2 linked regions of the Homo sapiens genome follow. The protein of the gene in region 1 interacts with the protein of each later gene in a biochemical or structural test. Each region holds a gene or a part of one and is shown in the gene's direction. Other genes may lie near its edges. The genes, in order: ELMO1 and HCK.

Region 1 (7,274 bases):
AGGAAGGGCATGATTGTAAGGGGATTGAAGTCAGAGGCATCTACTGTGTCCCATTCTGCTCTCCTACAATATGGAAGTGAAGACAGGAGGCTGTAAGGGAGGCTGTGTGGCAGATGCAGGGGAGATGAGAAATGCCTAGGAGAAGAAAAATAAAAGTGAGAAAACATTAAGGTGTTCTGCAGGTGCAGCTAAGTCTTGAACATTTACTAAATTACTATATTGAAAAGAAGCTAACTCTTGAGTGTTTCAAAGTAATTTAACCCCTTTGGGTGTTTGGTGTGAGTGGGTGGGGCGGGTGGGGAAAGGGCTTTGAAGCCTTTGCTGAAGGATGTGGCTGGGGGTGAGGCAAGGAGCTCACCTGATCACACACTGTGCTTACTTCATCAGGTTGCCTAATGCTCAAGGGTTAAAGGTGATCATTCCTATGGAGGTAACATTTCCCTTCCAGATCTAAGACAGTGGATACAATTAAGGTTTGTAACTCAAGCTTGTAACCACTTTTTGGTGCCTGAAACCATCCAAGTAGATAGTTTGGTTTATAAGACATTCTGTTGAATCTGGAAAACGTGGTGGATTAAGAAACCCTCTCTGCATCACAAAGCCTGGAGTGTTTGCTACTAATTGTGCAACTTTAGTTCTGGTTCCTTCTAGTCAACCAGAGAAGTGCTTTTTAAGCTTACGGCTGTAACCCATGAGCGGATCATGATATCACTTTAGTAGGCCAAGACCAGCAGTTTAAAATGTGAAAGAGAAGAGTGGTGTGGAAAACAGCATTTCATAAAACAGACACCCAGTCTTAATGTCAAAGTATTGCTCAGTGTAGGTAACGATTTTAAAAAGCCTGTTTCAATAATTCTGGGGAAAACTACATTTTTAACCAACTTGCCAGGGATTCTGATGACGACGTTCTAGAGGGCTACAAGAAATACTTAGCTATCTCCTTTTAACAAAATACTGTTGGTTTAACCCCCTGCAGGAGATGCTATTTCCAAATGTTGAACCAGATGCAGTTCTGTCGGCTATTGACTTAACTTTTCAAAATGCTACTATTGGCCGGGCGCGGTGGCTCACGCCTCTAATCCCAGCACTTTGGGAGTCCGAGGCGGGTGGATTGCGAGGTCAGGAGATCCAGACCATCCTGGCTAAGGCGGTGAAACCCCGTCTCTATTGAAAATACAAAAAAAATTAGCCGGGCGTGGTAGTGGGTGCCTGTAGTCCCAGCTGCTCTGGAGGCTGAGGTAGGAGAATTGAGTGAACCCGGGAGGCAGAGCTTACAGTGAGCTGAGATTGCGCCACTGCACTCCAGCCTGGGCGACAGAGCAAGACTCCATCTCAAAAAAAAAAATGCCACTATTTGTAGAACTTGCCAGTGCGCTAGGCCCTCATGCTGCCATCTTGGAGGAACTAGAAACTCAAGTGACATGCTTTTCACTTTAGTGATGCAGAAAGGCAGTAGCTCCCTTTGCAATAACTCTTTAACCTTACTTAGAATAAAATCGACAGACTATCCCCTTTTCTCACCAAGTTTTAGTTTAGAACTTTTGAGGTCTTTGGAAATTTACTCTGCTCAACTTCTCCTTTCATATTTTACATCTAGTGTTCCCCACATGAATGATTCTAATTACAAAGACAGTTGTAATCTCTTCTGGAGGCAGCCACACTGCTGGGATGCATGATTAGGTGAAGCATTTTAGCTGACCTGGGCTTGGATTGGCTATCCAAAGAAGAAAGTCAAAGGCTGACAACTCAGCCTGGGCAACATAGCGAGACCACATCTCTCAAAAGTTAAAAAATTAGCTGGGTATGATGGCATGCACCTGTAGTCCCAGCTACTTGGTAGGCTGAGGCAAGAGAATGGCTTGAGTCCAGGAGTCTGAGGCTGCAGTGAGCTGTGATCTCACCACGGTGCTCCAGGTTGGGGGACAGAAAAAGACCCCATCTCTTTAAAAAAAGAGTCTGAGAACTTCTGCACTGTCCATAATAAAAGGATCATGAAGGCCAGTCATTCCACAGGGTGTGGCTCCCAGGACCATGTGTGTGGCCATGAAAGCCTTCCAGTATGCCAGCACAGCATTTTTAGGTTCAGCAAAGCCAGCCTGCATGTACAATGCACACACTGGTTGCAATGCTTATTTCCCTGGATAATTTGGGTTGTTTGAGTGTTAACAATTGGAACTTATCTATATTAGCCAGAACTAAAGCCTGCAAAGCCATATCATGATTCCTGATTACATTAACTACTTGTGTCTTAGTGCTGTATTTTCTAACCTGTTACAATATAAGTGCAGGTACGGTACGAGCAGAATTTGGTCATTGGCCTAAGGTGGGGTGAACAGTTAAGTATCAGATAGGAATACGTGTGGGAGAAGGAATGCTAGCTCATCAAACAGAATTAACTACAGTAACAAACTGGCATAGTGCTGAGTCGAGAAATTAGTCACATGTATAAATAGAAGGAGACGATTCTCAGTGTTCCGGGCCCCCACAAACACTGATTTCCAGAATCTGAACAGAATTATTATTGGAACTTCAATTTTAGGAATTGAGGCTACAGTTTTGACTGTTTTAGTTCTAACAGTTAAGGTAGAAAACAAAACTTTCCTCAGTAGAAAACACTGGAGAGGCACAACTTGCTGGACTAAGGACTGAGATGTGTTCAGTGGGTTGTACTCTGGATAGGGAATGGTGGTTTGAGGGAATGAAAATCAGGTAAGCCCTATAAAGCATTCTCTCAGTGGAGGTGGAGTCATAGGATCAATGCGACATTTTTCTCTGTGGCCTGACACACCCTTCCTCTGGGGATGCTGTTTTGGAAATGATGGAGAACAGTCAGAATAGTATTGTTATCCCATTTTACAGATGTGGCTTGGAGGAATGAAATGTCACAAGCATACTTAGAGAGTGCATCTGAGCCTTAAACCCAACTTTTCTGACTCGTTTTACTGCGTTGTTTCTTTCTCCTGCACCATGATGTCTGCACTGGTTAGTTCCTTCTTTTGTTGGTTCACTGGACTTGCCAGCCTCTGAGGCCAGGATGCCATGTGGAGCTATGCTGCAGTGGTGTCCAGAGAGGCTCTTCACTCCTGTATGTCCTGCAGATGGATGTGCCCTGGGTTGCCATGGTATCCAGGGATGTCAATGCTGCCACTGAGTCCTAGTTCTTCAGAGTCAATCCCTCTCTTTGGGTATCTCATTCTAAAGTTGACCTTAGTTTTGAGAGTCAATGGATTCTTCTCTCAGGGACAGTATGTCCATCAGCCAACCTCATGATATTGAAGCATATGAGCTAGAATGCAATTTATTAATAAAAAATGAGAACAGTATTTGCCAAGAAGAATGGGCGTTTATTCTTTAGCCAACATTTTTCCTCTGTGGATGAGTCATGGTGAAGGCAAAAGCATGGAACCACCTGGGAAGGAACCAGTTGGAAGGGGAATATACTTGACAGTGTTTTCCAGCTCCTCATAACTTTTGCTAATTCTCTTGTTGATAGATTCATACCAACTAAGAAAACCAGAGACTGGAGTCCTTTGACCGTGATGGTTTCTCCTTTGGGCGATGCTGAGGCTACTTGTACGGTTCTTTTTCTACTTGTAGGCTGTTGGCCATTTTACTGACCCATTATTTCAGGCAGTGTCAGCCTCAGTGCTATTGACATTTCGGGCTGGATAATCCTTTGTTGTAAGGGCTGTCCTGTGTACTGTCGAATGTTTACTGCCTTCCCTGGCCTCTGTTCACTAATGCCAGTACATTAGTCGTTTGTGACAACCCCAGATGTCTCCAGGTATTGCAGATTGTCCTATCAATTTTCCTGTCCCCAAGCTGAGAACTGCTGCTTTGTCTTCCTGTGTTAGTGAGACCAGTTGTGTGTTATCAGATAGTCTAGACTTTCAACAGCAGTTATAAGTGCCCCAGTTTTCTCCTTACTGGTTATTCCTTAGAGTCTAAGGTGGTGTATTAATAAATGAGAGGGCTCACCCTTTATGTTCATTTCTTTCCTCCAGCTCTCCAAGTTTCCTTTCTAGCTCTCTTCTCTCTTATACTGCAGTTGTTTCTCTAATCCAAATGTTTTTCAAGTTTCCTTTCCATGCATGTTTCTTCCTAGTACCTGTGGCTGAAAAACACTGTAACTAGTGAGTTTTTGTCTCAGTTTCTTAACAACGTTTTGAATTCTGACCACTGGTTACTGCCTTAACTGTAACCTTTACATAATGGCAATAAGATAAATGAAATGAGGGAGGTGGGTAGCAAAGCTCAGCTTGGCTTGTTCAGAGGCCTTTGTCACAAGACAAAGGAAATGTCTGTGTGGGAATGAGTTAAGTGAGTTCAGTGCCTCCTCCTTTGCTTGTCAAATCCACCTTGACTAGTTGGATAGTAATGGTTATTGATATTCCATTAGTGCGACCAGGACATTGTAGCAGGTCAGGGAGAAGCCTTCAAGGTACTGCTTTATGCGAAGTCCTTTCCCACTTTGTATATTAGATTTCTGTCCTAATCTTGCCATGTTAACTTTCTTATGTAATTATCTGTCAGCCTTTTATTTACCTTCTCTGCTTGGCTGCTGTCGTAGTCCAGAACACCATCGAGTGGCTTAAGTGCCGTAGAAATATGCTGGGTTATAGACTAGCTATGACTCCCCTAGGCAGCCGCCTTCTTACAGTTCACCAGCCCTATAGCAACCCTCCACCCTTCCTTCCGCCCTTTGTGTCTTTTTTTTTTTTTCAGTTCAGAATTGCATTTAGAACGCCAGAGTTTTGTGCTGTGGGGTTCAGTGGCAGAGCTGGATGAGCTGTATTTTCCAGGCTGCTACACACAATTACCCTTAATTTTGAAGAGTAATCCATTTCAAAATAATTTTTTTTTTGTTTTTGGTCTCTTTAGCCCAAATGCGTAACCACAGCTGGCTTTACCCTTGGCCCTCAGAAAGCATGTGGCTTGGGAGGTAGAGCTAGTGGAGGAGTTTGGTCAGATTGCTCATTTTTGGTCAAGTGAGGAGTGAATTCCAATAACACTCAGTAAGGCTGGTTTTTATTTGACTCCCGTCCACCCCTCCAACTCTCCCCACCCCACAGTTTCCTAGATTTTTTTTTTTTTTTGAGATGGAGTCTCACTCTGTCACCCAGGCTGGAGTGTAGTGGCGCGATCTTGGCTCACTGCAAGCTCTGCCAACCGAGTTCAAGCGATTCTCCTGCCTCAGCCTCCTGAGTAACTGAGATTACAGATGCCCACCACCATGCCTGGCTAATTTTTGTATTTTTATTAGAGATGGGGTTTCACCATGTTGGTCAGGCTTGTCTCAAACTCCTGACCTCGTGATCCACCCGCCTCAGCCTCCCAAAATGCTGGGATTACAGGTGTGAGCCACCACACCCAGCCTCTTTGTTTTTTCTTTCTTTTTCTTTTCTTTTCTTTTTTTTTTTTTTGAGCTAGAGTCTTGCTCTGTTGCCCAGGCTGGAGTGCAGTGGCACGATCGTGGCTCACTGTAACCTCTGCCTCTTGGGTTCAAGTGATTCTTCTGCCTCAGCCTCCCCAGTAACTGGGACTACAGGTGCCTGCCATCACACCTGGCTAATTTTTGTATTTGTAGTGGAGACAAGGTTTCACCATATTGACCAGGCTGGTCTCGAACTCCTGACCTTGTGATCCGCCTGCCTTGGCCTCCCAAAGTGTTGTGATTACAGACATGAGCCACTGTGCCTGGCCCCTAGATTTTTTTATAGTGGACTTGTGCCTCAGTTATTCCAATTGTGGGCCACTCTGGGAAGTGACCACTACTCAGAAATTTTGGTTTGGGGGAGTGGGACCGATTCTTTGATATATTAAATAATAAGTGCTTTGTACATATATGTGTGTGTGAGAGAAAGACACACACACACACACACACCCATGCAGCTCTAATAATGAAAGGCCTTTAGAAGCAAAGAAACAATTATATCAGCTGCTAAATCCTGTTTTCTCCAGTGCTGTCACTTTTATAGTAAGTCAGCACAAATCACATGAAATTAAACATTTTGTCAAGGAATGAATATGTTTCCATCATCTCTAGGCTTACTCCACTGCCAGGAAGCGACTTTGACTCATTAGAACTACTTTCTCAATTACTGTCCATTCTCCAACTGAAGGTTTTTGAGAAACATTTGCTTGGGTTTATATGAGAGAAGCACAGTAAAGCTTTATTTATTAATTGTAGTATATTTTAAAAACAGATGTTGAGCTTATCCTTAAAATGTATATAAATATTTTCAAGCTAAACTATTGCTGGGCTTATAGCCCTGATCATAATGCTTCATTCAGTCATTCAAGTCAGTCAACAGCCACTTTGCTTGTAATTTGTATGCTGTAGCCTGGGCACTCCATATGTGGAGAAGGGGTAGGGAGGGCTGTAACAGGCAAATCTGTTTAGAGACAGTCATAACAGTATGCTAAAGGTATGTTTACCGTGATTGCAGATCACAGAGGTAGGTGTTCACAAATGAGGTGACTTTTGAGAAAGATCTGGAAAGCTGAGTATTAAGAGAAAGAATATGATACATCCAGGGAATATAGCAATCAGGGTGATGGAGGACAGTCTGGAAGGGGCTTTATGTCAGCAATCCCAGGAGCTGGGCATTTGGATTCAGCAGAAAGGAAAGCCAAAGGCTTTTAGGCAAGGAAAAGATGCAGTGCATTCCAGTGAGAGCAACCTGGAGGATAGATTAGATGGTACAGCTGGAGGGAGGGGCAGAGGAAAGATGGGAGCTCCTGCTAGGCCTGCTCAAATAAATACATGGTCTTGGTCAGATGAATAAATAAACAAAGCAGTGTGCTTGCTGTGCCAATGCAACTAGGAGACAGGTTGTCCAGCCCCCGCCTTCCAGCGGGTGCCAGCCAGAGTCTGAGCAGAGGTAAAGGAGGGGAGGCCAGCACTCACCGTGTTTGCCTGTAGATATTGATGACAAAATTAAATGATTTGCTAAGTGATTGGATTTGGGAAAAAGGAGAAGGAGTCTTTGAGGTTTAAAGCGCCATAAGCACATACTTGTTAATGGAGGGTTCAGATCTCCTGTTGAGTACAGCAGATGGGTGACTTCAGGTAAGTTAGTGATCTTCCTTAGCCTCAGTTTTCACATCTTTCAAGTGTAGGTAATATAAGTCCCCACCTCTTCGAGTAGCTGAGATGATTAAATGCAATCATGATTGTAAAGTAGAGTACCCTAAAAGCGTTGGGTTGGATTTGCTATTATTATTGAGGTTATTATCACTGATTCAGTAGTGTTTTTTTTTTTGAGACAGAG
Region 2 (7,274 bases), on another chromosome or scaffold:
GGGGAGAATTCATTTTCTTGCCTTTTTTAGTTTCCAGAGGCTACAGCATTCCTTGGCTCATAGTCCCTTCCTGACATCTGTCCAAGCTCTTGTTTCCATCTTCACCTCTTCCACTTTGACCTTCCTACCTCCTTCTAACAAGAACTCAAGGGATTACACTGGGGCTACCTGGATCATCTGGAATAATCTCCCCGTCTCCAGATCCTTAACTTAATCACATCTCTAAAGTACCTTTTACCATGTAAGGTAACATATTCCCAGGTTCCAGGGTTTAGGGCATGACTATCTTGAGGGACCACTATTCAGCCTACCACAGCATGTTCACATTTCAATAACTGGACTGGATTTCTGGGTTTTTTTCCAGAAAAGTCATAGCCTGAGTTTTTATGAAAAAGTAAAAAGTATACTATGGTCTCTTGGCTTTTTGTAGGGTAGATGATAGAAAGATGGAACAATAGATCAGAAATAATGAAGATGATGATGATGATAGCCAACATTTGCAGAGTGTTCAGCTTCCAAGTAGTTTACAGGCATTACTTCTTTTAGCCGTCAGGCAATAGGATCAGGTAGGGAGGCGTGAGAACTATTCCCATTTTACAGATGAGAAAACTGAGGCATAGAGAGGTGACATAGTCACATGGCCAAGGTCTCACGGGTGGATGTGGTAGAGCCTGGATGAGAGCCCAGGATGCCTGGCTCCCACAGCCCACTCAGACCCTCGGGCACTTCTGCCCAGGTGTCAGGACGGTGCCAGCGGTAGCCTTACAGGGTGTCAGAGTGCTAATGCAAGGTGGCAGGCCTCCAAGATGCCATTCTGAGGGGTTTCTCTTTGGTCAATTCAGGAAGCTACTCTTTGTCCGTGCGAGACTACGACCCTCGGCAGGGAGATACCGTGAAACATTACAAGATCCGGACCCTGGACAACGGGGGCTTCTACATATCCCCCCGAAGCACCTTCAGCACTCTGCAGGAGCTGGTGGACCACTACAAGAGTGAGTCCCACCCCAGGGGTGACATCCCCACCACGATGGGCCCACAGACTCCTAGTCACGGATGCACTGTGGCCCCTGAGACCTGCTGTGTCCTTCTTGGCCATCCCCTAGACAGATAGTTGCTTTGGATGCTTCTGAAGGCTTAGGACTGTTGAGCAGGAGGGTGAGGTGGCCAAGATGTAGAGGTGGCACCCCGTCACACTCTGCTTGCTTGGGAATGTCTCTGATGGTGGCAACCAGGTGGAACACTGGAGAGATCCAGTGGACCAGGTAGGGCGGCCTCCAAGGAGCAACCTCTGGCTGGCTCGGTGCTTGTTGCTCTCAATTGACCAGGGACTCTGTTCCAGAGGGGAACGACGGGCTCTGCCAGAAACTGTCGGTGCCCTGCATGTCTTCCAAGCCCCAGAAGCCTTGGGAGAAAGATGCCTGGGAGATCCCTCGGGAATCCCTCAAGCTGGAGAAGAAACTTGGAGCTGGGCAGTTTGGGGAAGTCTGGATGGGTAAGGACCCAGGGCCACAGCCCACAGGGCCAGAGGGTGGAGGGGAGAGGGAGGCCACTTGCTTCCAGGAACACCTTATGGCAAAGCGGGAATGCTACCCAAGGCAGAGGGGGAGATTTAAATAATAGCCATAAAGAAGCAGTTCCCTGATAGCAAACCAAATTGTCTTGCTGTGCAAACACTGATTTGCCTTTGAGACCAGTCCTGTAGTGGTCAAAAACTTCCTTCTGGGAAGCAGGTGTCATGGATGAGGAATCCCTCCCTCATACGGAGTGGGGACTGCCTAACAGTTTGGGATTGAGATAACCAGAGACCTTTTCAGATGATGAAAATTAAGAATGGGGAAATGCAGCTTGGAGATTTCCAGGCAACTGATGAACAGGTTATTCTGAGCACCTGCTGTGTGCCCAGCACTGTTAGGGTCTTGTGGGAAAATCAGAAAGGCACATCTCACACCTGCTGATTTTCCCCAAGAACTTAAGAACAACACTGCCTGCTTTGCAGGGCTGTGGGGTAGATGCAGTGCCAGCCCAGTGTGGGGCAGCCTGCTGTGTTAATACGTTCCAAATGGGAGCGTTCCAAATGGGAGCGAAGACAACTTACAGGGATGCAAACAACTCAGCCAGATAAAATAAGTTTAAAATCCATGTATTTCGACTGTATTTATTGCGATTCTGCTGCATGCAAGGCCGGGCACAGTGGCTCACGCCTGTAATCCCAGCACTTTGGGAGGCCGAGGCAAGTGGATCAATCAAGGTCAGCAGTTCGAGAAAAACCTGGATAGTATAGTGAAATCCCGTCTCTACGAAAAAATACAACAATTAGCCAGGCGTGGTGGTGGGAGCCTGTAATCCCACCTACTCGGGAGGCTAAGGCAGGAGAATCGTTTGAACCCAGGAGGTGGAAGTTGCAGGGAACCGAGATCGCACCACTGCACTCCAGCCTGGGAGACAGAGTGAGACTCTGTCTAAAAAATAATAATAAAATTAAAAAGAATTTGACAAAAAAGAAAATATGGAGAGGAAGGTAAGACAGATCTGAGTGGTGAGATTTGAAAGCCAAAAATATCATATAAGACGCTAGACTCCTACTACAGGAAGCCCACGGTTCTGGATTGGAGCTTCCTGGAAGCCAAGGCAAAATGGAAACCCAAGCAATTATAAAATTGACAAGACCCACCAAATGAAGCAGGGTGGGGTGAGGGGAGGGAACAGCATGTGCCAAATCCCTGTGGTGGGAGGTGAGTTGGGTGCTTGAGGGACTGAGTGACCTGCAGGGTGACTGGCACATAAAAGGCAAGGGGAGTTTAGTGGCTGATGAGGCTAGAGGGGTGGACGAGGCTGGGTCATGTAGGGCCTGGGGGTCATAGTAAGTCTGGCATTTATTTAAGAGCAGTGTTAAGATTAAAGTGGGCGGTGTATGTGTGTGACATAACCTGAGTAGTGTTTTAAAGCTATTTTTATTTGTTTGGGTTTTTTGTTTGTTTGTTTGTTTGAGACAGAGTCTCGCTCTGTCACCCAGGCTGGAGTGCAGTGGCTCAATCTTGGCTCACTGCAAGCTCCGTCTCCTGGGTTCACACCATTCTCCTGCCTCAGCCTCCCCAGTAGCTGGGACTACAGGCGCCCACAACTGCGCCTGGCTAATTTTTTGTATTTTTAGTAGAGACGGGGTTTCACCGTGTTAGCCAGGATGGTCTCGATCTCCTGACCTTGTGATCCGCCCACCTCGGCCCCCCAAAGTGCTGAGATTACAGGCGTGAGCCACTTAGAGCTATTTTTAAATCCTTGCAACAGCACTTCAAAGGCAAAGCTTACCATTTCCACTTTACAGATGAGGAAGCTGAGGAAGCCACGGCTCAGAGACGTTAAGCCACTTGCCCTAGTGTGCACAGCTGGGAAGTGGTGAACCCGCCTTTCAACCCACAGTTGTCTGAGGCCTAAGCCCATGATTTCGCTTCCCTCTCTGAGAGTTGAGATGAGCAGGAAAGACTTTCTGGAGGAGGCGGGTCTGCAGCTGGGCCTTCTAGGGTGGTACGGGAGACCAGTGGGCTCTGACCACCTTCCCTGCTCTCTATCCCCCTCCAGCCACCTACAACAAGCACACCAAGGTGGCAGTGAAGACGATGAAGCCAGGGAGCATGTCGGTGGAGGCCTTCCTGGCAGAGGCCAACGTGATGAAAACTCTGCAGCATGACAAGCTGGTCAAACTTCATGCGGTGGTCACCAAGGAGCCCATCTACATCATCACGGAGTTCATGGCCAAAGGTGCTGCGTGCTGGGGCTGGGGGTGCAGGCTGTGGCCTATACTGGTCAATTGCGGGCCCAAGGGTGGCTTGGACATGGTTCTTGCCCTTGAGATGGCCCCAATCTGGCCAGGAGCTCTTCCAACAAGTACTCATTGAGAATCTAATGTGGAACAATCCAGCCCTCCTGGTTAGTGGGGTGAAATCATGTTAAGGGGTCACCAAGGGGAAGGGAGAACAAGGGGCTACCAGGAGAAGGGAATGGGGCCAGAATACTCCTGGGCAATGGGAGAAGGGGCTTATGGTTCACAGTGAGCCTTAGAGGCCAGGGTGTGGCATGGGTGGTGGGGGTGCCACTCTCCCGCATCAGCCACCTTCCCTGTACTTGCCAAAGCCCTGGGAGAGGGAGCTGGCAAAGCAGCAGTTCTGCCCCCACCCCCGCCCTGCCACAACTCAGGATTTCTTGGGGAATTTTTTTAGGCCACTGTTTCACAACCATTTTCAACCCCTGCCATTTTTTGTTTGTTTGTTTTTTAGGGACAGGAACTTGCTCTGTTACTCAGGCTGGAGTGCAGAGGTGCAATCATAACTCCTGGGCTCAAGTGATCCTCCCACCCCAGCCCCCCGAGTGGCTGGGACCACAGGCCCATGCCACCACACTCAGCTAATTTTATTTATTTATTTACATATTTATTTTTAGAGACAGGGTTGCCCTCTGCCTACCCAGGCTGGAGTGCAGTGGCGTGATCATAGTTCACTGTAGCCTCAAACTCTCAGGCTCCAGGATCCTCCCGACTTAGTCTCCCCAGTAGCTGGCACTACAGGCATGCACTACCACACCCAGCTAATTTCTAAAAAAATTTTTTTTTTTTTTGAGACAGAGTCTCACTCTGTTTCCCAGGCTGGAGTGCAGTGGCACAATCTCGGCTCAATGCAAGCTCCACCTACCAGGTTCACGCCATTCTCCTGCCTCAGCCTCCCAAGTAGCTGGGACTACAGGTGCCTGCCACCATGCCTGGCCAATTTTTTTGTATTTTTAGTAGAGACGGTGTTTCACCGTGTTAGCCAGGATGGTCTCAATCTCCTGACCTTGTGATCCGCCCGCCTCAGCCTCCCACCATGCTGGAATTACAGGCGTGAGCAACTGCGCCCAGCTTCTAAAATTTTTTTCTAGAGACAAGGTCTCGCCATCTTGCCCCAGCTGGTCTCAAACTCCTGGGTTCAACTGATCCTCCCAAAGCTTTGGGATTATAGGCATGAACCACTGAGCCTGGCCTAACATATATATTTGTAAATTTCTTCTATAGATGGGGTCTTGCGATGTTGCCCAGGCTGGTCTCAAACTCTTGGCCTCAGGTGATCCTCTCACCTCGGTCTCCTAAAGTGTTGGAATTACAGGAGTGAGCCTCGTGCCTAGCCACTCTGCCCATTTTTTGATAAACAGAATCATCTCATGCAATCCCATTTAGTGCGATTTGAAACCTCAAGCCTTTTTCATTTTAACTATGCAATTATGCCAGTCCTGTGAAGGCATGATCCCAGCCATCCAGGCTCAGGGGCTGTCTCAGTCACAGAATCCATCTAGCAATCAAAAAGTCACTTCACTAAAACTCAATTCTCTTTCTCAAACACTAGGAATTGCAAACAAATATTCGTATTTAAATCTACTACTATGAAAAATCTTCACCACACACTAAAGTACTAGATTGGTGCAAAAGTAATTGTGGTTTTTGCCATTAAATAGTAAAAGTAGTAAATGTTCCTCCCCTCTCCCCCATATAGGAAGCTTGCTGGACTTTCTGAAAAGTGATGAGGGCAGCAAGCAGCCATTGCCAAAACTCATTGACTTCTCAGCCCAGGTGAGAGCCTAACGAGGAAACGGGGAAGGGAAACAGGAATTCGATTTTTTTACTTGCCAAATATTTACTGACCACATACTATGATGATAGCAGTAATAATAATGGGTAAAATGTATTGAGAGCTCAGTATAAAACTATGTTTTTTGCATATATTTTATTATACATGTACTCATTCATTTAATCATCCTATAAGCTTTATAGGCTGGGATTTTTGTTATCTATTTTGGTATAACAAACCATCCAAGTCCTAGTAGCTTGAAACAACAGCAATTGTTATTTCTCATGATCCTGTGGGTTGCCTGGGTTCAGCTGGGTGGTTCTTCTGCTCGTCATGGTAAAGTGAGGTGCAGATGTTGGCACTTGCCCAGGCTAGAATGTCCAAGACATGGCTCAGCCTCCAGGGTCTCTCCACATAGCCCCTCACCACCCAATCACCCAGCCTGAGCTTCTTCACGGCGCAGCAGCTGGGTTCCAAGACAGAGCTGGACCAGGGGCCAAGCCTTCATGAGCAGGCTCTCATTAAGCCTCTGCCTGCATCAGGCTTGCTAATGGCCCATTGGCCAAGTCACATAGCCATGCCCAGAATCAGTGTGGGAGGGGACTGACCAAGGACACAAATCCCAGGGACCCCCTCAATGTAACAGTCTGGCCACAGAGTAGGTAATTATCATCCCATTTTACAGAATAGGAAATTGAAGCATAGAGCAGAAGTAAAGTACAGATGTGGAAACTGAGCCCCAGTGTGGTTAAGTGGCTTGCACAAGTTACTGTGCTAATTATGGGGGATATAGCAGTGAACAAAATGAAAATGTTCCTGTCCTAATAGAGTTCACAATCCAGGTGGGAAGATGAGTATTAAATAACCAAATCTCTTAGAGACCATGACCCAAGTGGTCCTGGCTGAGTCAAAAGAGCACAGTATCTAACAAAGTAAATAATGTTCACAAATCGCAAAAACACTGCTGAAAACCTAATTTTCTTTCTCATGTTCCCCACGCCCCTTGCAGCTCCTCTCACCCCCAGCCTAAGCAGTTTTTTCACTTCTGTCCTCTCTCATGCTCTCTCTGATGTCTGGGAAAACAGAGTGTAAGGACGGGGTGGTATTAGAGTGCATAGCTAGAGCATTTAGCCTGGTCCAGGAGCAATCAGAGAATGCTTCCTGGAGGAAGTGGCCTCTAGGCCGAGCCTGAAGGATGAATAGAAGTTCAGTAGATGAAGAGAAAAGGTAAAGGTCTTTTAGACAAAAGAAACAGCCTGTGCAAAAGTAGGTGAAGGAGTTCAGCCTACTCAGCAGGAGCCCAGGGATAGTGGGAGTTGAGTGAGACCCTGCCTGGGCCTCAGCTGGGCCTGCTGGAGATGCCAAGGGCAGGGCTCATTTGAGTATGCAAATTCAGGGGCCCAGAGGACACCACAAAGTGTAACAAAAGACTCTACTTTCAGAGCCTGGAATGCCAGAGGCATATGGAAATGTGTTTTCACTCCTATGGGCCAGGTCCTCTGGGAGACAATAGACTGGTCTGTTGCTAAATTATCATCTTCAAACTAGCAGAAGCCCTGCTGGGCAGCAGTCACCGACCAGGGCAAGAGCCACTCTGCCCGTTTCACAGAGGGGAAAACAAACCAAGGGAGGAAAAGAGGTTCTGGGCCTTCATCTGTCCAGAAGCAGAGGTAGATTCAGAGC

The links.
Region 2: the proteins of ELMO1 (region 1) and HCK form a complex in vitro, tested with the Homo sapiens proteins (one study listed by BioGRID).

Annotation. Positions count from the first base shown.
Region 1 is NC_000007.14:37,438,591-37,445,864, reverse strand, and holds part of ELMO1 (engulfment and cell motility protein 1), read left to right. Parts: intron 1-7,274. UniProt on the Homo sapiens protein: Involved in cytoskeletal rearrangements required for phagocytosis of apoptotic cells and cell motility. Acts in association with DOCK1 and CRK. Was initially proposed to be required in complex with DOCK1 to activate Rac Rho small GTPases.
Region 2 is NC_000020.11:32,083,052-32,090,325, forward strand, and holds part of HCK (tyrosine-protein kinase HCK), read left to right. Parts: intron 1-842; coding exon 843-992; intron 993-1,339; coding exon 1,340-1,492; intron 1,493-3,576; coding exon 3,577-3,756; intron 3,757-5,516; coding exon 5,517-5,593; intron 5,594-7,274. UniProt on the Homo sapiens protein: Non-receptor tyrosine-protein kinase found in hematopoietic cells that transmits signals from cell surface receptors and plays an important role in the regulation of innate immune responses, including neutrophil, monocyte, macrophage and mast cell functions, phagocytosis, cell survival and proliferation, cell adhesion and migration.